Regions from separate parts of the Homo sapiens genome. Here regions 1, 2, 3 and 5 are each linked to region 4. The links come from fine-mapping of genetic effects on gene expression. A gene starts in region 4. Each other region holds a variant in brackets. All regions are shown on one strand. Distances are from middle to middle.

Evidence for each region. PIP is the estimated chance that this variant, and not a neighbour inherited with it, causes the effect. A credible set is the group of variants that fine-mapping cannot tell apart.
Region 1: its variant is the best candidate, but not a certain one, in a credible set for the expression of LINC03129 in fibroblasts (GTEx, PIP 0.81).
Region 2: its variant is the best candidate, but not a certain one, in a credible set for the expression of LINC03129 in iPS cells (HipSci, PIP 0.52).
Region 3: its variant is the best candidate, but not a certain one, in a credible set for the expression of LINC03129 in whole blood (GTEx, PIP 0.50).
Region 5: its variant is the best candidate, but not a certain one, in a credible set for the expression of LINC03129 in lymphoblastoid cells (GEUVADIS, PIP 0.76).

Annotation. Positions count from the first base shown.
Region 1 is chr7:65,713,600-65,719,486 of GRCh38, reverse strand. The region is part of intron 3 of LINC03006 (long intergenic non-protein coding RNA 3006); the gene reads left to right. It also overlaps the pseudogene INTS4P2. Among named protein-coding and RNA genes, the nearest start is that of SNORA22, 39 kb to the left of the region's middle. The variant G/C (reference allele first, on the strand shown) is at 3,354.
Region 2 is chr7:65,725,210-65,731,096 of GRCh38, reverse strand. LINC03006 (long intergenic non-protein coding RNA 3006) reads left to right here. Exons shown (of 8, transcript NR_038378.4): 3 at 3,989-4,042. Among named protein-coding and RNA genes, the nearest start is that of SNORA22, 27 kb to the left of the region's middle. The variant A/G (reference allele first, on the strand shown) is at 2,982.
Region 3 is chr7:66,041,867-66,047,753 of GRCh38, reverse strand. LOC105375336 (a long non-coding RNA gene) reads left to right here and starts at 3,340. Exons shown (of 5, transcript XR_002956511.2): 1 at 3,340-3,464. RefSeq lists enhancers at 3,122-3,191, 3,512-3,601, 3,172-3,672. The variant A/G (reference allele first, on the strand shown) is at 3,451.
Region 4 is chr7:65,836,488-65,842,374 of GRCh38, reverse strand. It overlaps LINC03129 (long intergenic non-protein coding RNA 3129), which reads right to left and starts at 2,671. Exons shown (of 1, transcript XR_002956508.2): 1 at 1-2,671. RefSeq lists an enhancer at 2,822-3,333.
Region 5 is chr7:65,771,373-65,777,259 of GRCh38, reverse strand. It overlaps the pseudogene GTF2IP5. Among named protein-coding and RNA genes, the nearest start is that of LINC03006, 3.5 kb to the right of the region's middle. RefSeq lists enhancers at 869-1,368, 1,369-1,870. The variant AG/G (reference allele first, on the strand shown) is at 2,909.

The DNA.
Region 1 (5,887 bases), 120 kb after region 4:
TGCATGTGGTAGAGGTGCTTTGAAAGGGTTTTTTAGGAGACAGTCTAGGAGATGACCCATCCTGTGCATGTCTACTCACCAAACCCTGTTTTATAATTGCCTGCCCATTTGTATGTCTCTGAATGAAACTGTGTACACCCCGAGAGGAAGAACTGTGATATATTTACCTTGGCAACCACAGCACTTAGTGCATGCAATAGAGTAAACACAATTGCACAAATGGATGGAAGGAAGGATGAATGAGTGGACAGATGGATGAATGAAGGAGTAGTACTCTTTGTGGGGCTTAACTGCACTGTCTGAATTGATTAGTGTCTCTACTACATTTCTCATGTGTCTCTATTACATCTATGTAACTTGGGAAAGAATATTTCCTAGTAATCGCTTTTTCCCATCCATAAATTTTATCTGCCAGCTGACTGACTCACAGCCTGAAAGGAACTTGTTTATTATAGTTTTCTGTAATAAAAGACCAAATCTTAACGTCACATTACAAGATTAGAAAAGGTCTTATCATTTACTGAACCCTTACTGGGTCCTGGGGGCTTTAAATTCATTATCTCTTTATGTCAACTCCTCCTATTTGTCAGTTGTAGAATCTGAGACTCAGAGTTTAAAGTAACTTGCTTCAAACCACACTCAGCAGTAGTTGAGATTCAAGCCTAGGTTCTTTCCCACAGAGGCTCATTTCTTCTCCTGTCCCAGTTTCTGTCCCTCAAGTAGAGACTATAGGGGTACTAACATTAAATACTTCAACACAAGGTCAGTCTAGAAGCTCCACGAGGACCCAAACCCGACAGACCTGGACCTTAACAGTGTTCTGAGGATCCTGCACATGCTCCAGGGTTGCATCAACATCCAGGGCAACCACCAACCCAGAGTTAAACTGCAAAGGGTTGTCTGACTCGCCCGCTGGCTCAATGATGGTGGCTGAGGCTTTGTGGATCTGTAAGCCAGAGGAAAATCCTATGATTCTAAAGCCAGGTCATTCCTGGACAAGAAAACACATCTTTTTTCTGTCTCCTTATCTAATGAGTGGGCATGTGGGAGCCACTCAGAGGAAGAGCCTAGCCCAGCTGCTCCATTGGTCAAAGAAGATCACCAAGGTAAAGATTTTTGACCGTCTGGACAGATTTGGCCTACAGGGGCCAAATAGACCCTGACCTGCTCTGGAAGTGGGAGATGCAGAAAGGCACTCTGTCGCAGCATGGTCTGTAGAATTTTGACCACTTCTGCAGGTTTGGATGTCATGAGTCGGGGCATAAGGTCAAGGAGTTTGTCCACAAAGCTGTCCTGCAAGTGGGGCAAATCAGCGATGAAATACCTGGAGGAACAAACAGAAGCAACTGACTCATTCAACTGTGCACACATTCACCACAGGCTGGGCCCCAGACACCTACCAAACCCTGAAGTAGGAAGAATGATGAAGTGAGAAGAGCTTGCAATTTACGACCAAGATAGACTGGTACCTATACAATCATGCCTCAGTCACATGATCATCAGAAAGGCCTCTGTTTATTGATAACCATTATGTGCCAGGCATACTCTTAAGTGTTTTACATGATCTTATTTAACTCCCAGCAATCCTATGCATCATTAGAATTTTTATTTTCATATTATAGATTCATTAATTATTTTAACAAATACATTTTTAAGACCTACGAAGCACCAAGCACTATTTTAGGTTCTGGAAACACAGTGAACAAAAGAGAACAAAACGATTGCTTCAATGGAGCTTACATTCAAGTGGCAGAAATACTGAGACTCAGAGGGGATGATGCCTCACTGAGGCTCAGAAAAGTTAAGTACGTTACTCCTGTCTCAGACTGATCCAATTTTGGGCCTCGTGCCAGTGGATAGTCAAAAAATATCTCACTGAGGAGGTGATATCTGTGCAGGAACTCAAAGGATGAATTAAGAACATCAGATGAAGAACTTTGGGGATTCAGAGCTATCATCTTCCCAAAAATCTTTTCAACCCAACTGTGCAAAAACAGACTCTCTACTTTAAAGAATCTAAAGCCAAAAGTAAGGCATGAACTTATTTCAGATTCAAAACTAGAATTTATTTTTTATTTTCTTTTTGGGAAGGAGTCTCGCGCTATTGCCCGGGCTGGTGTGCAATGGCGTGATGTCGGCTCACTGGAACCTCCGCCTCCTGTGTTCAAGCAATTCTCCTGCCTCAGCCTCCCGAGTGGCTGGGATTACAGCTGCCCACCACCACGCCCTACTAATTTTTTGTATTTTTTAGTAGAGACAGGGTTTCATTATGTTGGCCAGGCTGGTCTCGAACTCCTGACCTCATGATCCACCCGCCTCAGCCTCCCAAAGTGCTGGGATTACAGGCGTGAGCCACCGCGCCCAGCCTCAAAACTAGGATCTTAAAAAGCTAAGCTAGATGGTACAGTTTGCTAGACAGCATTACCTGCTGGTGAAGGTAGCGTTGCAACTCAGCCCTGTAAGAAGCTATCATCACCCCAATGACAAGTACAGAGTCACAAAAACCTCAGGTTTGGTGAACTTCATGAGGGCAGAGACAATGAGCGGAAGAAATGAAACAGACTTCATCAGTGCTTTAAGATCCTATGTCTTCTCCCAGTATTATTCTGCCAGCATACCAGAAGTCTGGTCACTCCCTTGACTCCTATTTCTTCATCAAGCTTTCCATTCAACTACTGCATGTGCTTTAACAGATTCATTCCATATAAAACTCTGAAAAAATATATGTATTCTACAAAATAAAATTTACCTATAGAATTACAAAACAATTGTTTGTAGATTACAGAGAAATATGCAAGTATAAGAACAGTGTGGGCCTGGTGCAGTGGTTCACACCTGTAATCCCAATACTTCAGGAGGCAGAGGCAGGAGGATCTCTTGAAGCCAGGAGTTTGAGACCAGCCTGAGCAACACAGCAAGACCCCATCTCTAAAAAAAATATTAAAAATTATCCAGGCATGGTGGCACATGCCTGTAGTCCTAGCTACTCAGGAGTCTGAAGTAGGATGATAGCTTTAGCCCAGGAGTTCAAGGGTGCAGTGAGCTGTGCCAGTCTGGGTGACAGAGTGAGACCCTGTCTCAAAAAATAATAATGAGGTCAGACGCGGTGGTGGCTCATGCCTGTAATCCCAGCACTTTGGGAGGCCAAGGCAGGCAGATCACTTGAGGTCAGGAGTTAGAGACCAGCCTGGCCAACATGATGAAACCCCGTCTCTACTAAAAATACAAAAATTAGCCAGGTGTGGTGGCAGGCACCTGTAGTCCCAACTACTTGGGAGGCTGAGGCAGAAGAATCACTTGAACCCAGGAGGCGGAGGCTGCAATGAGCCAAGACTGCGCCACTGCACTCCAGC[G/C]TGGGTGACAGAGCAAGACTCTGTCTCAAATAAATAAATAAATAAATAAATAAATAAATAAATAAGAATGGTGTGAACGAACAGTGTTGAAAAAAACAGATGACTAATGATTTTTTTCAACAAACGTATTTACACGTTTTCTTCATATTACTTGTGTTTTTATGGCCTAGCTGAGTGCTAAATGCAAGTGATTCCTGGTAGGTTTAGTTTTGAAGCTCCAACTTCAAAGAAGTTTCTATAATATTAAGGAAAAAAACCAAATTAGTTTTTTTTTCCTAATTTAAGGTTAACGACATGGCCACAGATGATAGCCTGGCTGCACAAGCTAAACCAAGGAATGTGATTTGTGATTGTTCCTATTGCCTGCAAGTGCTATACTCCGTGTAACCAAGATTTTATAAGCCGGAAGAGTTATAAAATACTTACCTCTGAAAAAAGTCTACTTCCTGTAAAAATTTTTCACACATCCCAAATAAGGGGTAAAGTCTGTAGAAAAGAAACGTAAAATAATTTGCTTGTGAAATCTGCAAACTGAGGTGGACCAAAGTCCCAGAAACCTGAGCCTAAATTAAAGGAAAATTAGTATATTACACTATAAAAACGATCTCTAAAAGTAACAGAAGACTCCTAATGGACCTGGGGGAAACACCTGTCGGGATCCCAAGACCTGATTAAACCACTGCAGTGCCCATTAAGCTCAAAGAATATTAAAAATCAAAGACTATCACAGGCTACACTTGGCACTAGACTCACTACGAATACAGAAGAGAAGCATAGCATGTGGGCAGTACAGTGTCAAGTTCCCCTTCTTCAGGAGTCCTTGCTTCATTAACATCTCAGCTAGCATGGTCTCTATACCTATCTGATTTAGATCTCATCTCCTTGCACATGAGCTGTCAGCATTGGGATGAAAGCTCCCAGATAGCTGTGTGGACTGCTGCAAGATCTACCCAGTTTCAAGAATCACTGCACTCAATGAAGCCTACAGCCATTGTATCGGCATCTGGAAACTAGTTCATTTATATTTCCTTCTGGTCTACATGCAATTTACTCAGAGATCATTTTTTCCATAGCGGTATAGCCTACTAATGTAGTTGATACTGTAAGGGCTCCAAGAAACATACCTAAAAAGTTAACTAAATTCCTATGCGAGAGGTGAAAAGGTTTTGCTACTATTTTGCCGACAGACATGGATGGTGTTCCTTCCTCTCTATCTTGAATTACTTGGCCTCACAGTACTTGAGAACATTCCATTTCAGTAAAAAGTTATTGCATACCTAAATAATCCAGGCAACATGCTAGGTCAATGTGACTTACTAAGTTTTGACCTTTGTATATTTTCTTCCTATTTCTTGTATGTAATTTCTGCATGAAATTTCCCACTTGTTTTCTTTAATATATTATTCATTGGATGAATAAAAGTTCCCACCAAGATAAAACAAATACTCTTTCCTTATGTAAAAATATGTAAGAGAATGATGTCAAAGTTTAGTCTTTTTATTAAAATATAGTCTCCATGAGTAGACTTTGTATTCTTCATCATATATTTCCTAGCACAGGCAGCATTCAATAAGTATTTGCTGATGAACAAAAAATGGGGCCGGGGGTAGATGGCAAATGGAAACCTACTCTGGAAGCAACATTCATTCTAATTCTTTTCCTGAAAAAAAAAAAAAAAACAACAAAAAAAAGTAGCACTTGAAAGTTTTTAAACTAATCTTCTACCAGAAATGGAAGTGAAATTTCATAGTGAGGTTACCCACCAAACACCACAAGGAGTGAGAGGGCTAGAAGAGAGAATTCCAGCCAAGCAAGGGCACAAAGGAAAGCAATTTGGCCAAGCAGTGACATTTCCTCATTTGTTTGCCTGATTATATAGAGAATCATCTTGGAGAGACTCCAGGAAGTAAAATACAAAAAGATTTGGGAACTCTCCCCAGACGTCAAAAAAGAGCAGGCATCCTCATCAACAGGCCATATACATGAAGTAGGCCTCTAATACTAAGATCTCCTACTTTTCCTTTGGTGTGAGGGAAGGAAAGCTATGAAAGTGAGGCTCACTCGGGGGCTAACAATCATTAAAGAATACAAATTACCAATTTAAACTAGCCTAGACTTTCACTGTAAGTAGGCAAAGACAATGGAAAATGACTAGGTGTTATAAATGACAATCAGGAGCTGTAAAGGAGACCAAGCAGTCCTCAAAAAGAGTTAAGTCAAGGCAAGAAAGCACAGAAAACTTTTTAAAAAATTCTAATCAACAACCTCAGTGAGAGTTAACAGGGATTTAAAAGGATATTACATTGACAAAGCAAGAGAAACTGCTACAGAAACAGCAGATGACAAGAAGAGAAACTATACAGCAGAAAAAAAAGGAAAAAAATAGTAGAGAAGCACACTTGGAAATAAAACACATAATAATGAAATCAAACTCAACAGTTGAGAACAGCGGAATCAACAACAATGTAAACTGAAATGATAAACTAAAAAGAGCATATTAAAGAATTTACTGGCCAGGCACAGTGGCTCATGCT
Region 2 (5,887 bases), 110 kb after region 4:
TCTGAGACCGTCTCATTCTGTCGCCCAGGCTGAAGTGCAGTGGCGCGATCTTGGCTCACTGCAACCTCCCTCTACGGGGTTCAAGGGATTCTCCTGCCTCAGCCTCCCGAGTAGCTGGACGCATGCCATCATGCCCAGCTAATTTTTATATTTGTAGTAGAGACAGGGTTTCACCATGTTAGCCAGGTTTGTCTCAAACTCCTGGCCTCAAGCGATCCACCGCCTCAGCCTCCCAAAGTGCTGGGATTACAGGCATGAGCCACTGTACCTGGCCACTATATTTTCTTTACGTATGTTTGCATATTATTACTTTTTAAATATTTGATGACTGATATTGGAATGAGAATCAGGGAGGAAAATAATAAAATCCAATATTCCTGTATTACAGTGCCAGGTAGGTTTTCAATATCATGACCATAGTCCTGTCACTTTCATGTCGGTGAAACAAAGTAATCAGGACTTTTTAAAATTTTCAGATGATTTAATATATGCCTGATACCTACCTTCCTTCTTTTCTTTTTTGTTTTAAGAGACAGGGTCTCACTTGGTCACCCAGGCTGGAGTGCAGTGGTGCAATCATAGCTTATTGCAGTCGCAAACTCCTGAGCTCAAGTGATCCTCCCCTCAGCCTCCCAAGTAGCTGGGACTACAAGTATGCACCACCATGCCTGGCTCATTTATTTTATTTTTTGTACAGATGACGTCTCACTATGTTGCCCAGGCTGGTCTCAAACACCTGGGCTCAATCAATCCTCTCACCTCGGCCTCCCAAAGTACTGGGATTACAGGGGTGAGCCCCCATGCCCGGCCTTGTTTTATTTTATTTTTAAGAAAATACTTGGACTAGCTGGGCATGGTGGTTCACACCTGTAATCCCAGCACTTTGGGAGGCTGAGGCGAGCAGATCACCTGAGGTCAGGAGTTCAAGACCAGCCTGGCCAGCATGGTGAAACCCTGTCTACTAAAAATACAAAAAATTAGCTGGGCATGGTGGTGTGTGCCTATAATGCCAGCTCTCAGGAGGCTGAGGCAGGTGAATTGCTTGAACCTGGGAGGTGGAAATTGCAGTGAGCTAAGATCGCGCCACTGCACTCCAGCCTGGGCGACAAGAGTGAGACTCCATCTCAGGAAAAAAAAAAGAAAAAAAGAAAAAAAAAGAAAATATTTGGGCTAGAATTAGGGTGGAAGGGATCCTCAAGTTTGCCTAGACCAGCCTCTTATCAGAGACTTTTTTAAAGCCAGTGTTTTATTGCTATATAATTAAATGTAATAAAATACACTCTTTAAGTGTGCATTTTGATGAATTTTGACAAATTTATTCATACTTGTAATCATCACAATAACATTTCCATCACCCAGAAGGTTCCTAGGGCCTCTTTCCAGTCAGCCCCGTCCCAACCCCCAGCCCTACTGATCTGATCTTTGTTGTTAGGGCATTTGTATTTTCTAGTGTTTCATATAACTGAAACAGTATGTGCTCTTGTGTCTGGCTTCTTTCCATCGGTATAATTTTTTTTTTTTGAGATGGAGTTTCGCTCCTGTTGCCCAGGCTGCAGTGCAGTAGCGCAATCTCAGCTCACTGCAACATCTGCCTTCCGGGTTCAAGTGATTCTCCTGCCTCAGCTTCCTGAGTAGCTGGGATTACAAGCATGCGCCACCATGCCCAGATAATTTTGTATTTTTAGTAGAGACAGGGTTTCACCATGTTGGTTGGGCTGGTCACTGCTGACCTCAGGTAATCTGCCTGCCTTGGCCTCCCAAAGTGCTGGGATTACAGGTGTGAGCCACCGTGCCTGGCCTTCCATCGGTATAATTTTTTTTTTTTTTGAGACTGAGTCTTGCTCTGTCCCCCAGGCTGGAGTGCAGTGGCGCAATCTTGGCCCACTGCAACCTCTGCCCCCTGGGTTCAAGCGATTCGCCTGCCTCAGCCTCCTGAGTGGCTGGGACTACAGGCATGTGCCACCGTGCCCAGCTAATTTTTTGTATTTTTAGTAGAGACGGGGTTTCACCGTGTTAGCCAGGATGGTCTCAATCTCCTGATCTCGTGATCCACCTGCCTCAGCCTCCCAAAGTACTGGGATTACAGGCATGAGCCACCGCGCCCAGCCCTATTGGTATATTTTTTAAAATATTTATCCATGTTGTAGCATGTATCAGTAATTCATTTCTTTTTATTACTGAGTAGTGTTCCATCGTAGGGATATACCACAATTTGTTTAGCTATTTATCTGTTGGTGAATATTTGGGTTTTTTCTTGTGTTGGGCAGTCACAAATAAAGCTGCTATGAATATGTTTTCATTTCTCTTGGATAAAACTCCAAGACTGGGATTGCTGGGTGTCTTTTTAATTTTTATTTTTTGAGATGGAGTTTCACTCTTGCTGCCCAGGCTGGAGTGCAATGGCGCAATCTCGGCTCACCGCAACCTCTGCCTTCTGGGTTTAAGCAATTCTCCTGCCTCAGCCTCCCTAGTAGCTGGGATTACAGGCATGTGCCACCATGCCTGGAAATTTTGTATTTTTAGTAGAGACGGGGGTTTCACCATGTTGGCTAGGCTGGTTTTGAACTCCTGACCTCAGGTGATCCACCTGCCTCAGCCTCCCAAAGTGCTGGGATTACAGGCATGAGCCACCGCGCCCAGCCTTGGTGGGTCCTATGATAAGTATATGTTTAACTTTATAAGAAACTGCAGTCCCAGTGTGGTGGCTCACGGCTGTCATCTCAGCACTTTGGGAGGCCAGTGTGGGAGGATTCCTTGAGGCCATGAGTTCAATGTCAGCCTGGGCAACATAGCGAGACCCTGTTTCTACAAAAAATAAAAACTTAGCGGGGCATGGTGGTGTGCATCTGTAGTCCCCGCTACTCAGGAGGCTGAGGTAGGAGGATTGCTTAAGCCCAGGAGTTCTAGGCTGCAGTGGGCTATGATTGCACTGCTGCACTCCAGCCTGGGTGACAGAGCAAGACCCTGTCTCAGACATGCGC[A/G]CACACACACACACACACACACACACACACACACACACACACACAAACTGTTGTCTTTGCTTCCTTGTAATTGGGCAGCAGATCCTTTCTCTGATTCATCTTGGAATGCTGTTGTCTCTGTCCCCTGTATTTATATATTTATTTATTTTTGAGATGGAGTCTCGCTCTATCACCCAGGCTGCAGAGCAGAGACACGATCTCGGCTCATTGCAAACTCCACCTCTGGCGTTCAAGTAATTCTCCTGCCTCAGCCTCCCGAGTAGCTGGGACCACAGGCATGTGCCACCACATCCGGTGAATTTTTTTTTCTTTTGAAACGGAGTGTCTCTCTATTGCCCAGGCTGGAGTGCAGTGGCGTGATCTGGGCTTACTGCAACATCTGCCCCCTGGGTTCAGCAATTCTCCTGCCTCAGCCTCCCAAATAGCTGGGCTTACAGGCACATGCTACTACCACTTGGCTAATATCTTTGTATTTTTAGTAGCGAGAGGGTTTCACCATGTTGGCCACGCTTGTCTCAGACTCCTGATCTCAAGTGATCCACCAGCCTTGGCCTCCCAGTGCTGGGATTACAGGCGTGAGGCACTGCGCCCGCCTGAGTCTGCTTCTGTGTCTATTCATTTAGTTCTCCCAAGAGATTCTCTTTCCCTCTCCCTCTGCCTCTCTCTTTTCTTTGTACTCTGCTAATCAGGTTTACATGATTTCCTATCAGACCTGAATCTTGCAGAATTGAAGCCACAGAAAAGAATATGCTGACTCTGCAGTGCTTGAAGGGGGTAAAACTAAAGCATTACCTAGAGGAAGCAGTCTTAGGAAATTTTGCCTCTGACTCGTTTTTGTGACAGTCCCACCAGGAGAGAGTGAAGCCAGTCTCCCTCTTTCCTGTTTTGTGTCTGGACTTCAATGTTCATTTCCTCATTCTCTCTTTCTAGGATCTTGCTCTTGCAGAATCTACAGGTCTTTCTTGAAGAAATCTGTAGTCATAATTTTGTGCTCCATTTTTATTTAGGGGAGGAACAGGAAGAGAAGAGTGTGGCCTCCTAGAAATCTAGCACGGAGAAAGGTAAGTCTGATTTGTCTTTTTTTGGTCTTGTTTTGTTTTTTTTGCTGTCATTGTAATTTTTTTTATGCATTCGACTATTATACGTTATACTGTTATATTATGTTGGCCAGACTGGTCTTGAACTCCTGACCTCGTGATACTCAGCCTCCCAAAGTGCTGGGATTACAGGAGTGAACCACCAAGCCCGGCTTGACCTCTTGGCTTTTACCAAAGGATGTTTGCTTCTGAGGAAGCTGGAAGCTGCAGCCACAATGTGCCTTTGCAGGGGAGCCTGAGAGCCACAGGTAAGGACAACTGAGTTAGACAGGAGGGATGGGGCCTAGGGGGAGGGCAGAGTGCATCACATTCCCCCACCCAGACCCACAGGCCACGGCATCACAGCCCCATGCAAGTCCCGACTCCTGTCTCTCTGATTGTGTGATTCCCAGTTATTCCCATTTCCCTAACAGATAAACCTCCCAATGGGTTCAATGCATACACTTTTATTAAATCTCACTCTGTCACCCAGGCTGGAGGGCAGTGGTGTGATCTCGGCTCACTGCAAGCTCCGCTTTACAGGTTCAAGCGATTCTCTTCAGCCTCCTGAGTAGCTGGGACTACAGGCATGCACCACCAGGCCTGGCTAATTTTTTTGTATTTTTAGCAGAAATAGGGTTTCACCATGTTGGTCAGGCTGATCATGAACTCCTGACCTCAAATGACCCACCTGCCTCGGCCTCCCAAAGTGCTGGGATCACCTGCCCACTCCCTTGGTGAGGAGCCCCCTAGGGCACCTCCACCTCCTGGAGCACAAATGTTGTTGAGATGAGCAGCTTGAGACATGGTATGGACCTATGCGGAGGTGTCCCTAGACAATGATGGCATCAGAGTGAGAGGCTGGATGAGGATGTGTCTGGGGGAGCTTCGAGGTGCTGTGATGTGTAAGAGATCATTAATTCCAGGATGCCACCCCAAGGAGAATATGCATGGACCAAAGATGAGGGGTCCCCAGGAGGGTGAACCAATAGTAAGGCCCCCAGATTCCATCCCTAGCCAGGCTCCCTGCTAAGTGGCAATTAGAAAAATTCCTCTTTACAGAAAACAGAGCATCAATTAGGTCCCCAATTACAGAGCCAGTCCTCTACCCTCTAGTGAAAGCTTCCAGTGGACAAGAAAAGCTTGAGAAAGCCAGAAGGAATAGGAACCCACAGCTCAGGCCGGGCCGAGGCTTCATAAATCAAAAGGACATTTTTTTTTTTTGAGAGATAAGGTCTCACTCCATCACCCAGGCTGGTGTGCAGTGACCCAATCATGGCTCACTGCAGCCTTGAACTCGTGAGCTCAAGTGATCCTCCCAGCTCAGCCTCCTGAGTAGCTGGGACCACAGGTGCACACCACCATGCCTTGCTAACTTTTATTTTTATTTTTGAGACACAGTCTCGCTCTGTCACCCAGGCTGGAGTGCAATGGTGCATTCTTGGCTCACTGCAACCTCCGCCTCCTGGGTTCAAGTGACCCTCCTGCCTCAGCCTCCCAAGTAGCTGGAATTACAGGTGCATGCCACCAGGCCCAGCTAATTTTTGTATTTTTATAGAGACAGTGTTTCACCATGTTGGCCAGGCTGGTCTTGAACTCCTGACCTCAGGTGATCCGCCCACCTCAGCCTCCCAAAGTGCTGAGATTACAGGCGTGAGCTACCGTACCCAGCCCATGGCTAATTTTTAAACTTTTTTGTAGAGATGGAGTCTCACTATGTTGCCCAGGCTGGTCTCAAGCTCCTGGCTTCAAGCAGTCCTCCCACCTCAGCCTCCCAAAGTGCTGGGATTACAGGCATGAGCCACCATGCCCAGCCGCAGAAGGGCAATT
Region 3 (5,887 bases), 210 kb before region 4:
CTTCAAAGGCCCATGGTTTTGGGACGCCTCTCCGCCTCATTAGTCATTCCCTCCCCTGCCCCATCGCGTCAAAACACAATGCATTGTGGTTATTTATGTCCAGAGCTGGCTCCCCAACTACGCTGTCAGCTAGCCAGTGCAGAGGGTGTGTGTTAGTCACATTTGTATCATCAGCCCCCGATGGGCCATGGCTACATACTTGTTGAATGAATAACACAAGGAGGAGCTTTAGCATTTCTTTGTGGGGCCCCATTTTCTCAACGAAGGTACAGGGAATTCTCCACACTAACCAGGCCAGCTAGATCTGGGTGGCATTTTATGCACTTTGTTGTTGTTGTTGTTGTTTTTTAATTTTTTATTTTTATTTTTTTTGAGACGGCATCTCGCTCTGTCGCCCAGGCTGGAGTGCAATGGCGTGATCTCGGCTCACTGCAACCTCTGCCTCCTGGGTTCAAGCGATTCTCCTGCCTCAGCCTCCCAAGTAGCTGAGACTACAGGCGACCGCCACCACGCCCAGCTAATTTTTATACTTTTAATAGAGACAGGGTTTCACCATGTTGGCCAGGATGGTCTCGATCTCTTGACCTTGTGGTCTGCCCTCCTCGGCCTCCCAAAGTGCTGGGATTACAGGTGTGAGCCACCGCGCCTGGCCGTTGTTATTGTTTTGCGATGGAGTCTTGCTCTGTCACCCAGGCTGGAGTGCAGTGGCGCGATCTGCAACCTCTGCCTCCTGGGTTCAGGCGATTCTCCTGCCTCAGCCTCCTGAGTAGCTGGGGTTACAGGTGCGAGCCACTGCGCTGGTTAATTTCTTTTTTTTCGTAAAGATGAGGTTTTGCCACGTTGCTCAGGCTGGTCTCAAACTGGGCTCAAGCGATCCACCTGCCTTCATCTTCCAGAGTGCTGGGATTACAGGTGTGGGCCGCCATGCTCAGCCGAGTAAAAAATGTTTAACAGCTTTATTAATATAGGATTCATATGCTGTACAATTTGCCATTTAAAGTGTACAACTCAATGTTTTCAGTATATTCACAGGGTTGTGCAACCACCACCGCCATCCATAATACTTTTAGGACATTTTCGTTTCCCAAAGAGAAGCTCCATATCTATTAGCAGTCACTGCCCATCCCTGCACCCAACCCCTCTCCTAGCCTTCTTTCTGTATCCATAGATTGGCCTCTTCTTGGACATTCTATATAAAGTGAATCATACGGTATGTATATATATTTTTAGAAGGAGTCTTGCTCTGTCGCCCAGGCTGGAGTGCCGTGGCATAATCTTGGCTCACCACAACCTCTGCCTCCCGGGTTCAAGCAATTTTCCTGCCTCAGCCTCCTAAGTAGCTAGGATTACAGGCGCCTGCCACCATGCCCGGCTAATTTTTGTTTTTTTAGCAGAGACGGGGTTTCACTATGTCGGCCAGGCTGGTCTCGAACTCCTGACCTCATGATCTGCCTGTCTCGGCCTCCCAAAGTGCTGGGATTACAGGCGTGAGCCACTGTGCCTGGCAATTTTTGTATTTTCAGTAGAGATGGAGTTTCACCATGTTGGCCAGGCTGGTCTTGAACTCCTGATCTCAGATGAACCACCCGCCTTGGCTTCCTGAAGTGCTAGGATTATAGGCATGAGCCACGTGGCCAGGTGATATGTATTATTTTGTGTGTGGCGTCTTTCACTTATTAATAGCGTCATGTTTTGGGAGGTTATCCATGTTGTAGCATGTATCTATCCATCTATCTATATGTATTTTTTGCAACAAGGTCTCTCACTCTGTAGGCTGGAATGCAGTGATATGATCATAGCTCCCTGCAGCCTCGACCTCCCGACTGAAGTGATTCTTCCACCTCAGCCTCCCCAGTACCTGAGACTACAAGTGCTCACCACCACACACCTGGCTAACTTTTTGTAGATAGGGGGTCTGGCTATGTTGCCCAGGCTGGTCTGGAACTCCTGGTCTCAAGAAATCCTGCCCCCGCCTCCCAAAGTATTGGGACCAAGCCTGGCCTCCTTTTTATTTTTAAATAGTTTTCCATTGTACAAATGTAGTACATTTTATTCATCCACTCACCAGTCTCTAGTTAATGCATCTGTTGTGTTTGTTCAGATTGACTGGGGTTCAATACCCACCGGACAAGTTCCTAGATGAGTGACTTTTGGTAAATCATAATCTCTCCAAGACTGCCTCAGTTTCTTCAATTATAAAATGTCAATAATAAAGGAATCTACTTCACAGAGAGTCATGGTTGTACTGCCACAGTAATTAATAAAGTGCCAGGCACTTTATGAGGATTATCTAACACATTTATTATTTACAAAGGAGGGAACAAAGGCCATTGCGGTGGCTCACACCTGTAATCCCAGCACTTTGGGAGGTGGAGGTGGGAGGATCACTTGAGGCCAGGAGTTCAAGACCAGCCTGGGCAACATAGAGACTCTCCCATCTCTACAAAAAAATAAAAGAAAAATTCTAGCTGACCCTTTGGACAGCAAATAATTTTTTTTTAGAAAATTAGCCAGAGGGGGCCAGAAGCGGTGGCTCACGTCTGTAATCCCAGCACTTTGAGAGGCCGAGGTGGGCGGATCACGAGGTCATGAGATCGAGACCATCCTGGCTAACACGGTGAAACCCCGTCTCTACTAAAAAAAAAAAAAAAAATAGCCGGGCAGGGTGGCCGGCGCCTGTAGTCCCAGCTACTCGGGAGGCTGAGGCAGGAGAATGGCGTGAACCTGGGAGGCAGAGCTTGCAGTGAGCCGAGATTGCGCCACTGCACTCCAGCCTGGGTGACAGAGCCAGACTCCGTCTCAAAAAAAGAAAAAAGAAAAAAAGAAAATTAGCCAGGTGGCCGGGCACGGTGGCTCATGCCTGTAATCCCATCACTTTGGGAGGCTGAGGCAGGTGGATCACGAGGTCAGGAGGTCAAGACCAGCCTGGCCAAGATGGTGAAACCCTGTCTCTAATAAAAAATACAAAAATCAGCCGGGCATGGTGGCGGGTGCCTGTAATCCCAGCTACTTGGGAGGCTGAGGCAGGGAATTGCTTGAACCCGGGAGGCAGAGGCTGCAGCGAACCGAGATCGCGCCACTGCACTACAGCCTGGGCGACAGAGCAAGACTCCGTCTCAAAACAAACAAACAAACAATAGAAAACACGAGATAATCCTGTCCGCAAACGCTCAGCAGTCTGAAGTCGGCCTGGGCGAAGGATACAGGAACACGCCCCCACCCCCCCCAACACCCCCACCCCCGAGAAAGGAGAACCTGCGGCGCGAGGTTCCGAGTCCGCCAAGCTCCCGGCATGAAGCGCGGCGCTCCTGGCTTGCACCTTGGCGTGCGGAGCTGGCACTTTGGCGCTGTTGGCGACGGTGGGGAGAGCTGTAGAGTGTGAAGTTCCTTGTCTGCTGGCAGCCAGAGGCGACGAGTCTGGACCTCATGGAAGTCCAGACTCTAGTCTGG[A/G]CGCGTCCCTTTTGGTACGCGAGGAGCCTAACAGTTGGACCTCTGAGAGCCGAGAGCCGTGGGGACTGGGCGACCCTCGTACGGAAGTGAGGGCAGGGGGCTGGCTGGCCCTGTCCGGGAGGGCCCCGGGATAGGGACAGGGACGAACGGGACTCAAGCCCCTCCGAACCTCCACAACCTGTGTCTGGGGTGCGGGGCCGAGCACCTCCGTGTCCGGCTGCCTTTCAATGTGCCCCCTCCTTCTCTCATTCATTTACCAGCGTTTCTGGGTCACAGTGCGGGGGTGGAGCCCAGCCTGGTATCCGACCCGGGACTTAGCAGGCTGTAAAGGCCTGAGTCTGTCCGCCCTGAAAGTAGGTGGAGGAGAGACGAATCAGGTCCAGGTAGAGCTCTGCTTGCCCCACCGGGCCCTGGGGAGCCCTCACTCCGAAGAGCTGCCCTCAGAGTTTGATGGGAACAGTCAACACTGTGAGGGAAGGGGCGAGTTTTTGGGTGGAGAAGGGAAGGATGTGAGCCAGGACTGGGACCGGAGAAACAGCACGGGGTGTGTGGGTGTGTACAGGCGAGGGTAAAAGGTTTTCTGACAGTTTAACTCCACGTGGTCTTTTCCGTGCTTGTTCGTTGCGCCTAGTGCAAATGGAAGTTTTTGCATCTACTCCGAATGTGGGTTTTATATGATTGATATTAACTTGTAGGTATTACCTAACTTGTGTTCTCTGTGAACTGACTGATACAGTTTCCTTCACGTTCTCTTGCCTCATGTTTAATGGTTATATGTACTATGGCATTTCAGATGTTTATATTTTTAATTAATTAATTTTGTTTTTTCTTAAGAAACAGAGTCTTGCTGTGTCCACCAGTGGGAGTGTGGTGGTGTAATCATGGTTCACTGCAGCCTCGACCTTCTGGACTCAAGCAATCCTGCTTCAGCCTCTCCGGTAGCTGGGACTGCAGGCCCACACCATCACTCACTGTTCATTTTTTTTTTTTTAAGTTTTTGTAGACAGAGGGTCTCACTACAGCCTAGGCTGGTCTCAAGGTGATACTGAGCTCAAGTGATCCTCCTGCCTTGTACTCCCAAAGTGCTGGGATTGCAGGTGTGAGCCACCTCACCTGGCTCCTTTTGAGTTTTTTTTTTTTATTGACGTAACATAATATGTCTGTGTAACTGAAATGAAAGGCTCATGAAACAATAATGTATGGCGTACACTCTCATATTGTTTATTTTTTTGTTAAAATGAATGGGGCCAAGCGTGTGGCTCATACCAGTAATGCCAGCACTTTGGGAAGCGTAGGCAGGAGGATCACTTGAGCCTGGGTGGTAGAGACCAGCCTGGGCAACATAGGGAGACCCTGTGTCTGCAAAAAATAAAAAAGTTAGCTGAGTGTGGTGGTTCATGCCTGTAGTCTCAGCTACTTACGAGGCTGAGATGGGAGGACCGCTTGATCCCAGGAGGCTGCAATGAGCTGAGATCCAGCCACTACATTCCTGCCAGAGTGGCAGAGCAAGCCTCTGTCTAAAAAAAAAATAAAAATAAAAATAAGTTGACCTACTGAATTAATTTTGCAACCTACTGATGGGATTTCATCTGCAACCTGAAAAACTATTAATATATTTTACTCTTGTATAAGCCATCATTACTAATTTTTCCCTACTTACTAGAGCATTTCCTGTGAGCATACAATCCTGCTTTAGTGTATTCATCTTAAGAAAATCCTGTCCTCACATACATGTCAGCCTCTTTTTTTTTTTTTTTTTTTTTTTGAGACGGAGTCTTGCTCTGTTGCCAGGCTGGAGTGCAGTGGCACCATCTTGTGTCACTGCAACCTCAGCCTCTTGGGTTCAAGCAATTTTCCTGCCTCAGCCTGCCGAGTAGCTGGGACTACAGGTGCATGCCGCCATGCCCAGCTTATTTTTTCTTTTTGGAATTTTAGTAGAGATGGGGTTTTACCATGTTGCCCAGGCTGGTCTCAAACTCTTGAGCTCAGGCAATCAGCCCAGCTCGGCTTCCCAAAGTGCTAGGATTACAGGTGTGAGCCACCACACCTGGCCACATGTCCACCTCTTACTCCATTTCTGCTTCCCATCCCAACAAAACTTCTTGAAAGTGCTGATTAGACCCTCATTCTCTCAACCATTCTGTTGGGCTTTCATCCTCACTGGTCTACAGAAATGACTGTTAACATTACCTGATCCAGTGGGGCGCAGTGGCTTACGCCTATAATCCCAGCATTTCAGGAGGCCAAGATGGGCCAATTGTCTGAGGTCAAGAGTTTGAGACCAGCCTGGTCAACATGGCGAAACCCCGTCTCTACTAAAGATACAAAAATTAGCCGGGTGTGATGGTGGGCACCTGTAATCTCAGCTACTCAGGAGGCTGAGGCAGGAGAATCACTTGAACTCGGGAGGCAGAGGTTGCAGTGAACCAGATTGTGC
Region 4 (5,887 bases):
ACTATCGATTTGTCAGAAATCCACTCTCAAGGTTAAGAGACAGTTTTTGCTAAGGCACTCTGCTGTAAAGTGAACAAATGAGAGTCCAGGGAAGCTTTAGGCTCCTTGATGCTGTTGACCATCAAAGGCTTAAAGCTGGATCTGGAAGAGGCAACTGTGAGGCAAGAGCAAAACCAGAAGAGGCTACCATGAGGCAAAAGATGGGCCTTGAGTGGCCACTGTGAGGCAGAAGATGGGCCAGACGAGGCCATTGTGAGGCAGGAGCTGGTGTAAGAGAGACCACCATGAGACAGGAGCTGGGTCTTGGGAGGCAGATCTGAGGTAGGAGATGGGCCTAGTGAGGCCACTGTGAAAAAGGAGCTGGGCCTAGAGAGGCCAGTGTGAGGCAGAAGCTGGGCCGGTTGAGGCTGCCAGAAGTCAGATAGGAACATGGCCGGGGAAGGCCACCATGAGGCAAGAGCTGGGCCTGGAAAGCCTGCTGCGAGGCAGGAGAAAAGCCTGGAGAGGCCATTGTCAGGCAGGAGCTGGGCCTGTTTAGGCTGCCACGAGGCTGACAGTAGGCCTGGAGAGCTTGATTTGAGAAAATTTTGAGCCTACAAAGGCCACCAGGAGCTGGGCAGAAGCTGAGTCCAAGGAGGTTGTTGTGAGGCAGGAGTTGGGCCTGTAGACACAGCAGGGAGGAAGAGCTCGGCCTGCAGAGGATGCCAGGAGGCAGCAACTGGGCCTAAAGAGGCCGACTTGAGGAAGTTCTGGGCCTGGAGAGGCCGCCAAAAGGGAAAAACTGGGCCTGGAAAGGCCGTTGTAAGGAATGAGCGGGGCCTAAAGAGGTCATTGAAAGGCAGGAGCTGGGCTTGTCGAAGCTGCCAAAAGGCAGGAGTTTTGGACTGGGGAGGCTACAGTGAGGCAAGAGCTGGGTGTGGAGAGTCCGCTGTGAGGTAGAGGCTGGGCCTGTACAGACCTTAAGAAGGCAGGAGCTGGGCCTGGAGAGGCTGACTTGAGTTCAAGTTCTGGGCCTGAAGAGGCCACCAAGTCAAAAGCAGGGCCTGAGAAGGCCACCAAGAGGCATGAGCTGGGCCTGGACAGGCTGATGGGAGGAAGTTTTGCACCTGGAGAGGCCACCAAAAGGCAGGAGCTGGGCCTGGAAAAACCAACTGGAGGACGATTTGGGTCTTCAGAGGCCACCAGGAGGCAGGAGCTGGGAAAGAAGAGGCCAATTTGAGGATGATTTGGGCCTGCAGAGGTTGCTGGGAGGAAGAGCTGGGCCTGGAGAGGCTGACTGGGGGAAGTTCTGGGCCTGGAGTGGCCAAAAAGCGAAAGCTAGGCCTGGAAAGGCCACAGTGAGGCATGAGCGTGGCCTACAAAGGCCATTGGGAGGCAGCAGCTAGGCCTGTAGAGGCTGCCGAAAGGCAGGAACCTGGTCAGAGGAGGCCATGGTGAGGCAAGAGGTGGGACTGGAAGGTGCACTGTGAGGTAGAGGCCAACAACAGGCAAAAGCTGGGCCTGGAGAGATGACAAGAGGAATGAGCTGGGCCTAAACAGGCCAGTATGAGAAAGGACCTCGGCCTAGAGAGGCCAGTGTGAGGCAGGAGCTGGGCCTGGACAGGTTGCCAGAGGCATCAACTGGACCTAAACAAGCCATTGTGAGGGAGGAGCTAGGCCTGTTGAGGCTGCTGGGAGGCAGGCGGGAACTTGGCCCACGGAAGCCACTGTGAGGCAAGAGATGGGCCTGGAGAGGGAGCTAAGAGGCAAGAGCAGGGCCTGCAGAGGCTGTTCTCAAGCCAGAGCTGGGTCTGTACAGGCCACTGCAAGGCAGAAGGTGGGCCTAAAGAGCTTGACTTGAGGAAGTTTTGGGCCTACAAAGGCCGGCAGTAGTTGGGCAGGAGCTGAGCCATAAAAGGTTGTTGTGAGGCAGGAGTTGGTCTTGTAGATACAGCCAGGAGGAAGAGCTAGGCCTGGAGAGAATGCCGGGAGGCAGCAACTGGGCCTGGAGAGGCCGACTTGAGGAAGTTTTGGGCCTGGAGATGATGTCCCGGGACAGGAGCTGGGCCTGGAGAGGCCACTGTGAGGCATGAGCTGGGCGTAGAGAGGCCAGTGTGTGGCAGGACCTGGGCCTGTCCAGGCTGCCAGGAAATAGGTGGAAACTTGGCCAGGGAAGGTTGCCATGAGACAAAAGTTGGGCCTGGAAAAATCATCGTGAGGTATGAGCTTGGCCTAAAGAGCCATTGGGTGGCAGGAGCTGGGTGTGTAGAGGCTGCTGAAAGGCAGGCGCTTGGCTTGTGGGGGGCCACGGTGAGGCAGATGCTGGGCCTGGAGAATCTGCTGTGAGGCAGATATTGGGCCCGTAGAGGCTGACAGAAGGCAGGAGCTGGGCCTGGAGAGGCTGCCAGGACACAAAAGCTGGGCCTGAAGAGGCTGCCAAGAGGCATGAGCTGGGCCTAAAGAGACCAGTGTGACAAGAGATCGGCCTGGAGAGGCCGACTTGAGGAAGATTTTGGCCTAGAGAGTCTGTCAGGGGCAGGAACTGGGCCTGGAGAGGCCACCGTGAGGCATGAACTGGGCCTAATGATGCCAGTGTGAGGCAGGAGCTGGGCCTGTCAAGGCTGCTGGGAGGTAGGCAGGAACTTGGCCAGGGATGACCTCCGTGAAGCAAGAGCTGGGCCTGGAAAGGCCATTGTCATGCAGGAGCTGGGCCTATCCAGGCTACCAAGAGGCAGAAGATTGTGCTGGTGAGCTTGACGTGAGGAAGTTTTGGGCCTACAAAGGCCTCCAGGAGCTGGGCAGGAGCTGAGCCAAAAGAGATTGTTGTGAGGCAGGAGGTGGGCCTGGAGATTCAGCTAGGAGGAAGAACTGGGCCTGGAGAGGCTCACTTGTGGAAGTTCTGTGACTAAAGAGGTTGCAAAAAGGCAAAAGCTGGGCCGGAATGGCCACCATGAGGCAGGAGCTTGGCCTAGAGAGGCCACTGGGAGGCAGGAGCTAGGCCTGTAGAGGCTGCCGAAAGGCAGGAGCTTTGCCTGGGAGGCTGTGGTGAGGCAGATACTGGGCCTGGAAAGTCTGCTGTGAGGCAGAGGTTGGGCCTGTAGAGGCCAATGGGAGGCAGGAGTTTGGGCTGAAATGGCAGACTTGAGAAAGTTCTCAGTCTGGAGAAGCCACCGGGATGCGGGAGCTGGGCCTGGAGAGGCCACTGAGAGGCATGAGCTGTGCCTAAAGAGGCCAGTGTTAGGCAGGAGCTGTGCCTGAAGAGGCGACTTGAGGAAGTTTTGGGCCTGGACAGCCCGTCGGAGGCAGGAGCTGGGCCTGGAGAGGCTGCCGTGAGGCATGAGCTGGGCGTAATGAGGTTAGTGTGAGGCAGGACCTGGGCCTGTCGAGGCTGCCGGGAGGCAGGTAGAAACTTGTTCAGGGAAGACCTCCGTGAGGCAAAAGCTGGGCCTGGAGAGTCAGCTGGGAGGCAAGAGCTGGGCCTGGAGATGCTGTTGTCACACAGGAGCTGGGCCTGTCCAGGCCATTGGGAGGCAGAAGGTGGGTCTGGAGAGCTTGACTTGAGGCAGTTTTGGGCCTACAAAGGCCACCAGGAGCTGGGCAGGAGCTGAACCAAAAGAGGTTGTTGTGAGGCAGGAGCTGGGCCTCCAGGCACAGCCAGGAGAAACCTCAGCCTTTAGAGGCCACCTGGAGGCAGCAGCTGGGTCTGGAGAGGCCAACGGAAGAAGGCAGGAGCTTGGCCTTGAGAGGCTGACTTATGGACATTTTGGGCCTGTATAGGCTGCCCAGAGGCAGGAGCTCGGACTAAAGAGACTGTTGTATGGCAGGAGCTGGGCCTGTACAGGCCACTGGGAGGCAAAAGGTGGGCCTCAAGAGTCCACTGTAAAACAGGAGCTGAGTCTTGGAAGGTGGCTGTGAGGCAAAAGATGGCCCTTGGGAGGCTGATGAGAGGCAGTAGCTGGGCCTGGTGAGGTTGACTTGAGAACCTTCTCTCTGGGCCTGGAGAGAAGGCTGGGAGGCAGGAGTTGGGCCTAAAGAGGCCATTGTAATGATGGAGCTGGGCCTGTGGGGGCTGCCATGAGGCAGCAGCCTCATCTGTGGAGACTGCCATGAGGTAGGGTATGGGCCTAAATAGGCCATTGTGAGCCACAAGCTTGGCCCGTAGAGGCCGACTGGAGAAAGTTCTGGACCTGGAGAGGCTGCCGGGAGGCAGGAGCTGAGCCAAAAGATTCAAGCGCATTACATTTATTAGGCACTTTATTTCCATTATTACATTGTAGTATATAATGAAATAATTATAGAACTCACCATAATGTAGAATCAGTGGACATGTTAAGCTTATTTTCCTGCAACAAGATGGTCCCATCTGAATTGATGGAAGAAAGTGACAGATAATCAGGTATTAGATTCTCATAGGGACAGCACAACCCAGATCTCTCGCATGCACGGTTTGCATAGGATGCATGCTCCTATGAGAATCTAATGCTGCTGCTGATCTGAGAGAAGGCGGAGCTCAGGCGGGAATGTGAGCAATGGGGAGTGGCTGTAAATACAGATGCAGCTTCCCTCACTCAACACCACTCACCTCCTGCTGTGTGGCTCCTTACAGCTCCATGGCTCAGGGGTTGGGGACCCCTGCTGAAGTGCATCCAAAAGGACCATTCCCACACCAGTCTTCATAGCGGTCAAGTGCAGCAACCACTTAGCTCCCAAGGCATGTGCCTCAGCTGGCATTTCATCACAATCAACAGTAAGCAGTAGCTTGAGTCATTGTGAGGTCACTTCCTGGAAATCACCAGCATTCCGTTTCCCATTGGCAAGGAGCTCAGCACTGCCCCTTGGATAACCAAACCTATCCCCAAATCCCATCTGTGTGAGTCTATCTCCAGGGACCCTTCTTAGCATATTAGAGTCCAACCAGGAGACATAAACCACTCAAAAGTTTAAAGTGGTAAATTTAATACAGAGAATTATTCATTGTAACAGGGGAACAGCATAATGAGAGACTGGCTAGCACAAAGTAAAGAGAACTCCAGAGAATATAGGACTAGCCCAGGCCAGGCATGGTGGCTCATGCCTGAAATTCCAGCAATTTAAGAAGCCAACACAGGAGGACTGATTGAGGCCGGGAGCTAGAGATTGGCCTGGACAACACAGTGAGACCCTGTCTCTATCCAAAAAAAGAAAAAAATTAGCTGGGAGTGGTGGTGCACACTTGTAGTCCCAGCTACTCAGGAAGCTGAAGTAAGAGAATAGTTTGAGCCTGGGAGGTCAAGGCTACAGTGAGTCATGATTATGCCACTACAGTCAAGCCTGGGTGACACAGCAAGACCCCGTCTCAAACAAAACAACAAAACGACAACAACAACAACCATTTACAGACAGAAAAGAAATAGAGCTAATAAGCTAAGGGAAGATGCTGAAATGTGACCAAGTAATATGCGGTATTTTATCTATTTAAAATAATCAAACAAAAAATAACTTATTAAATTATAATACCCTGTGCAGGCAAAGGTGCAGTGAAATGGACACTTTCTTATACTAGGAGGGGTGTTTAAATTGTACATAGTCTTCCAAGGTAAAGGTTGGCAATTTTTTAAAATAATAGAGACAGGGTCTCACCTTACTGCCTCCTCCAACTCTTGGCCTCAAGCAATCCTCCTGTCTTAGCCTCCAAAGGGCTGGGATTATAGCCAGGAGGCACCCAAAACCTTGTCAATGTACATCAAGGGCAATGAGAATGCCCATTCACCATGACTCACAGTAATCTTACTTCTGGAAATACCTTGGGGAGACAATTCAATCTAAACAAAAGGTCATCTGCATAAACACAGTGAAATTCTGGGAGTAATTGAAAACAGAGTGGTTAAGTTAAGTAAGAAACAGTTATAAGAAATTATACTATGGTATT
Region 5 (5,887 bases), 65 kb after region 4:
GATCAGCGATATGATTATTCCACTTCTCTGAAAACTGAGCAAAAGTTGATTCTCAATAATATGTCCCTATGTCAGAGCAGCAATAATATATAATGACTTATTTCCTATATTTTACATACTAACAGTCCATATCATTTTACTGCTTTCGAAAACATTTTTCCCTTTTTTGGTGGTTCTTAGAATTAGTTTAATAGGAGACTACAAGAGAAGTTTTAAAGTTTAATGCCTTTTTTTAGCCTTTAATTTCTGAAAAGGAGGGCAGAAAAGATCAATCAAATTAAACACGACAACAGGGAGGCCACAATGAGGAGGTCTCCAGAGGCCTTTTCGCAAACTTCCTAAAACATGTCTCAGCTGTGTGGAAATAAGGCTTTACAGCAGCTGGGTGCAGTGGTGCAGGCCTGTAATCCTAGCACTTTGAGAGCAGAGGTGGGCAGATTATCACTTCGAGCTCCGGGCAACAAAGCAAAATCCCCCCTCCCCTCCCCAACCCCCTGCCTCCGCCCCCGTCTATGCCAAAAATATAAAACTTAGCCAGACATGGTGGCAGGTGCCTGTAGTCCCAGCTACTCAGGAGGTTGAGGCAGGAGAATCACTTGAACCCAGGAGGCGGACGTTGCAGTGAGCCGAGGCCATGCCACTGCCAGCCTGGGTGACAGAGCAAGACTCCGTCTCAAAAAAGAAAAAAAAAAAAGATTAAGTAAGAGGGACACCAGACCTTAAAAATACAAGTTTAAGAGGGACCCTGACTCAGCGTGGTGGCTCATGCCTGGGACTTTGGGAGGCCGAGGCGGGCGGGTCACGAAGTCAAGGGATCTAGACCATCCTGGCCAACATGGTGAAACCCTATCTCTACTAAAAATACAAAAAATTAGCTGAGAGTGGTAGGTGCGCATCTGTAGTCCCAGCTACTCAGGAGGCTGAGGCAGGAGAATTGCGTGAACCCAGCAGGCGGAGGTTGCAGTGAGCTGAGGTTGGGCCACTGCACTCCAGCCTGGGCAACAGAGCAAGACTCTATTGAGGCAAGGTTTCTCATTCTCAGGTCCGAGGGGTTCAATAACTGGGCCCTTAGGGAGGTGTGAGCCCCCTGAAACGATGCAAGGTTTTGTGTGGAGAGTGTGCACATGCGTTTCCGGGAAAACAGCCCACAGTTCTCATTCTCAGCAGGCTCCACACTCAAAAAAGGTTAGACTCTTGCTACAGAGCTGTGGGAGCAGCTAGGTGAGGGGCCTGCCAAGGGCACTCTGGGGACTACCTGGGCAGTCTTGAGCCCACCTGGGCAGTCCTGAGCCCACTGTCCCCTAGGCAGGCTGCGCTGCTTGGTATTTGCAGAGCTGAGGGGGTGGGGCATGCGGGACTGTGAAATCGCCCTGAGATGACCCACAGCACTCAGCTGGGAAGTGAGGGGTGTGTATCCTGCAGCATCCTCCATCCCTAGGGCCATGGGGCCAGGAGAACTGACCCTTGCAGCAAGTGAAAAGCCTATCATTGACTCCCTCCCTGGCCATGCAGACAATGAACCAAAGGCACTCAAATCAAGTAAATGCCTTGGTCTCTGTGACCGACGTGACCAGTAGGCATTCCCAGGTGCAGGGAAGGTCCTGACACCAAGATATGCACCTGGTTGCCTGAGGAAAGCGAAAGGACTATCCAAGGGGTTGGGGCTGAGCTGGGTGTGGAGTGGTCCTTGTGGGTCATGGTGAGTGGGAGGGGGAGCAGCATGAGCCAGGCCTCGGGGCAGGAGGACAACCAGGAGATGGCCTGGAAAAAGTGCTGGACCCACGAGGGTTCAAGGCTGGCCAGAGAGGGAGGTGGGATAGGCTGGGAAGTCCCGAGGTCTGAAGATTGGCCCTGGCAGGCAGAAACCAGGAAAGGTGGGCAGTTACCTGCACCCTGGGGGCCAGATGCATCCTTAGCCTAGAGCAGGTGCCAAGATTTCTGGCTCTGGGTGTGACCTAATTCTGGGGAAAAGCCCCAACCCCCACCAGGACCACCTGCCCCCCAAACTACTTCAGATGCTGAGCCCAAGCCAGGAGCAGGAAGCTGGACTGATGCCTAGGGTAATCCCGACAAAGTCCCTGACTCCCCCCAGCTATGGGGCTGAAGGGGAATTACAGCCCAAACCCCAGATGCTGGCTCTCAAACTAACCCTGAGCCCTCAGTGCCCAAAGGGAGACTCAATCAGCACACTTTCCAGATGGGGAAACGGGCTCAGAGAAGTGCAAGAGCCTTGCCCAGTGCCCCAGACCAGGACTCTAGGCCCAGAGTGTTCTTTTGTCACTGTGTCCAGAGGGTAGCAGCTGCTCTGATATAGCCACCTGAGCCTGGCAACTTTCTCCAACTTTGGAAGCCCAGGAGCATGACCTGTGCCCACAGATGCACCTGGCATGAGGTGCACCCAGAGGGACAGAGGCAGATGAGTTTTGCCTCCTCCACTGGATTGTGAAGGCCTCCAAGGAGACAAGGATCTGCTTGAGAAGGCAGCAGATAGTCAGCAACCTGGGGTGGTTTAACTCTGGATGGATCTGCAGTGCCTGGATGGGACCTGGCTCAGACAGAGCTCAGTTCTGCAGGTCACTGAGGCATGGAAAGGTCACAGCTACCAAGTGTAGGAGTCTGGATTCAAAGCCAACAGCGTGACTCCAAAGTCCCTGCCCTAGCCCCTGGACCACCCACCTCTCGGAGTCACCCTTGCAAGCTCATCAGATGTTCAGGCCAGCAGCACAACCAGCCAGGGCCAGGGAAACTTGGGGAGCCTCATTCCAACATAATCCTTGCACCCTTGCCCCTCACCATCTTTCTTCCTGCGTTAACCTCACCCCCTACACAGAGCCTGGGCCACTTAACTTGGCATCAAACAGATGCCTCAATAAATCAGAGTCTGATCTTCTCGGAAAAAAAAAAAAAA[AG/G]ACTTAACAGATATACAGTTGCAAGTTAGAATGTTAAAGAACATAAGCATACAACAACTTAATGTACATATAAATTCAATATGTAGCCAATCATTGTGACTATGACACAACAGAATATTAACATACTATTTTCAAAATGTATACAAGCTTAATGATCTATTTATATTCAAAATATGAATCATCAACATAATTTGCCATTAATATCTCATTCAGTCCCTTCACAGGACACATGATCCACTGGGAGTTAACACAATAGCAGCTGGCAGGCAGTGACACACAGCAAAAACGAAAACCAACAGGTGAAATAGTTCTGAAATAAAGAAGGTTTTAAAGCTAAGAGAAACCATTGAATTCCTAAGTCATTAGGACTAATTTTGAGCCAACTAATTAATATGAGATGAAACAATGTCCTATGCTTTGGTAAATTCAAACCATGTTTAAACAATGTCTATAATGGGACTTTCAAAAAGCTCCTGGCTTTACAAAGGTGAGATTATAACATAGTAATACATGCTAAAGCATTTCCCCCTGCAGATGAGCATGTTGTAACTTTCATCAGCCACATTGAGAGTCCAGAAGATGAGGGAAAAGGTTGTGGATTTCACTGAGAACTTACCAGAGTTGAACTCCCTCACTTTCCGTTGCCCATCATTGGCAGGTTCCGGAACTGGTGGCTGTGGTAGTTTGTTGGTCTTTGGTCTCTTAGAAGGTGGAGAATCATCATCATGTTGAAAAAGAAAATGGTCATTACTGAAGGAACAATTCTAGGTTACAGCCACCTCCTGGTAAATTCCCAACATTCAAAAGGTGAGCGGCTTTAAAGCTATTTTGAATATTAATAATTATTCCTGTACTATGATCTTCAGCATACATTTTTCTAGTTACATTTGAAATTTTATTCTTTTGGGATGTGCTCAAGTGAATACTGCTTTATCCTCTGTCTTGCTTCATTACTTTTTAGTTTGCTTCATTTGAATCATCATTATAAATCTCCCCTTGCCCTCAAATAACTCTGAAATTGCTGCCAATAACTATATTGTTTTAAGGCTTTTCAGAAAAAACTTTCAACAAAGACAGCCACCTAAAGTTATACAAATATAGAAGAAAGGGAATATAATAAAGCTTAGATTGGAAAAAATATTTAAGCTTATACAAAATTCAAACATACATAAACAAGGGAAGCTGGATAATTTTATGTTCAAATACTTTTAACAAGTGCAAAATGTATATGCTTAAAGAAATAGGGTTGGCCGGGCATGTTGGCTTATGCCTGTAATTCCAACACTTTAGGAGGCCAAGGCAGGCAGATCACTTGAGGTCAGGAATTCAAGACCATCCTGGCCAACATGGTGAAACCCCATCTCTACTAAAAATACAAAAATTAGGCTGGGCGCGGTGGCTCACACCTGTCACTTTGGGAAGCTGAGGTGGCCGGATCACCTGAGGTAGGGAGTTCAAGACCAGCCTGACCAACATGGAGAAACCCTGTCTCTACTAAAAATACAAAGTTAGCCAGGCGTGGTGGCACATGCCTGTAATCCCAGCTACTAGGGAGGCTGAGGCAGGAGAATCGCTTGAACCCGGGAGGTGGAGGTTGCAGTAAGCCGAGATGGCGACATTGCACTCTAGCCTGGGCAACAAGAGCGAACTCCGTCTCAAAAACAAAAACAAAAAGATATTAGCCAGATATGGTGGCGCCTGTAATCCCAGTTATTCAGGAAGCTGAGGCAGGAGAATCGCTTGAACCCAGGAGGCGGTAGTTATGGTGAGCAGAGATCATGCCACTGCACTCCAGCCCAGGTAACAGAGCAAGACCCTGTCTCAAAAAAAATAGGGCTACATTATTTATGAAACAGATACTGTTGACTCAGTCACCAGAAAGCGAAGGTCGCCAACATCAGACAAATTCACTGGAGGACCTATGTATGTGCTTTGAAAGACAACACTGTTTTGGTAAAGAATACTGTATTTCAGAAAAACATAATCATATTAACAACTAATAACACTGTAAAATGCTGATGTGTTGAATGCTACTTTAGAAAAACATGTTCAAGTCTAGGAAAAAGATTTCCGATAGAAAACTACGTATCAATTACCTAGCTAGCTAGCTATCTAGAGACAAGGTTTCATTCTATTGCTCAGGATGGAGAGCAGTGGGATGACCATAGCTCACTGCAGCCTTCAGCTCCTGGCCTCAAGTTATCCTCCTGCCTCAGACTCTTAAGTAGTGGGGCCACAGGTGGACACAGGTACACCTGGCTTTTTTTGTTTGTTTTTTATAAACAGGGTTTCACTACATGGCCCAGGCTGGTCTCAAGCTCTGGAGTCTTGCTCTGTCGCCCAGACTGGGGTGCAGTGATGCTTCTCGGCTCACTGCAACCTCCGCCTCCTGGGTTCAAGAGACTCTCCTGTCTTAGCCTCCTGAGTAGCTGGGACTACAGGCATGCACCACCACGCCCGGCTAATTTTGTATTTTTAGTAGAGATGGGGTTTCTCCATGTTGGTCAGGCTGGTCTTGAACTCCCAACCTCAGGTGATCGGCCCGCCTCAGCTTCCCAAAGTGCTGAGATTACAGGTGTGAGCCACCGCGCCCAGCCTAATTTTTGTATTTTTTTGTAGAGACTGGGTTTCACCATATTGGCAAGGATGGTCTCAAACTCCTGACCTCAGGTGATCCACCCGCCTCGGCCTCCCAAAGTGTTGGGATTACAGGCGTGAGCCACCGCACTTTCTTATGTTATTAAATAGCCTAGCCCAGGAGGGTACGGTGGCTCACGCCTGTAATCCCAACAACTCTAAAGGCCAAGGTGAGAAGATCGCTTGAACCCAGGAGTTCGAGACCGGCCCGGGCAACATAGCAAGACCCCCCCCATCTCTACGGAAGATACAAAAATTAGGCCAAGCGTGCACCGCGCCTGGCTAATCTTTGTATCTTTCGTAGAGACGGGGTTGCGTCATGTTGTCCAGGCGCATCTCGA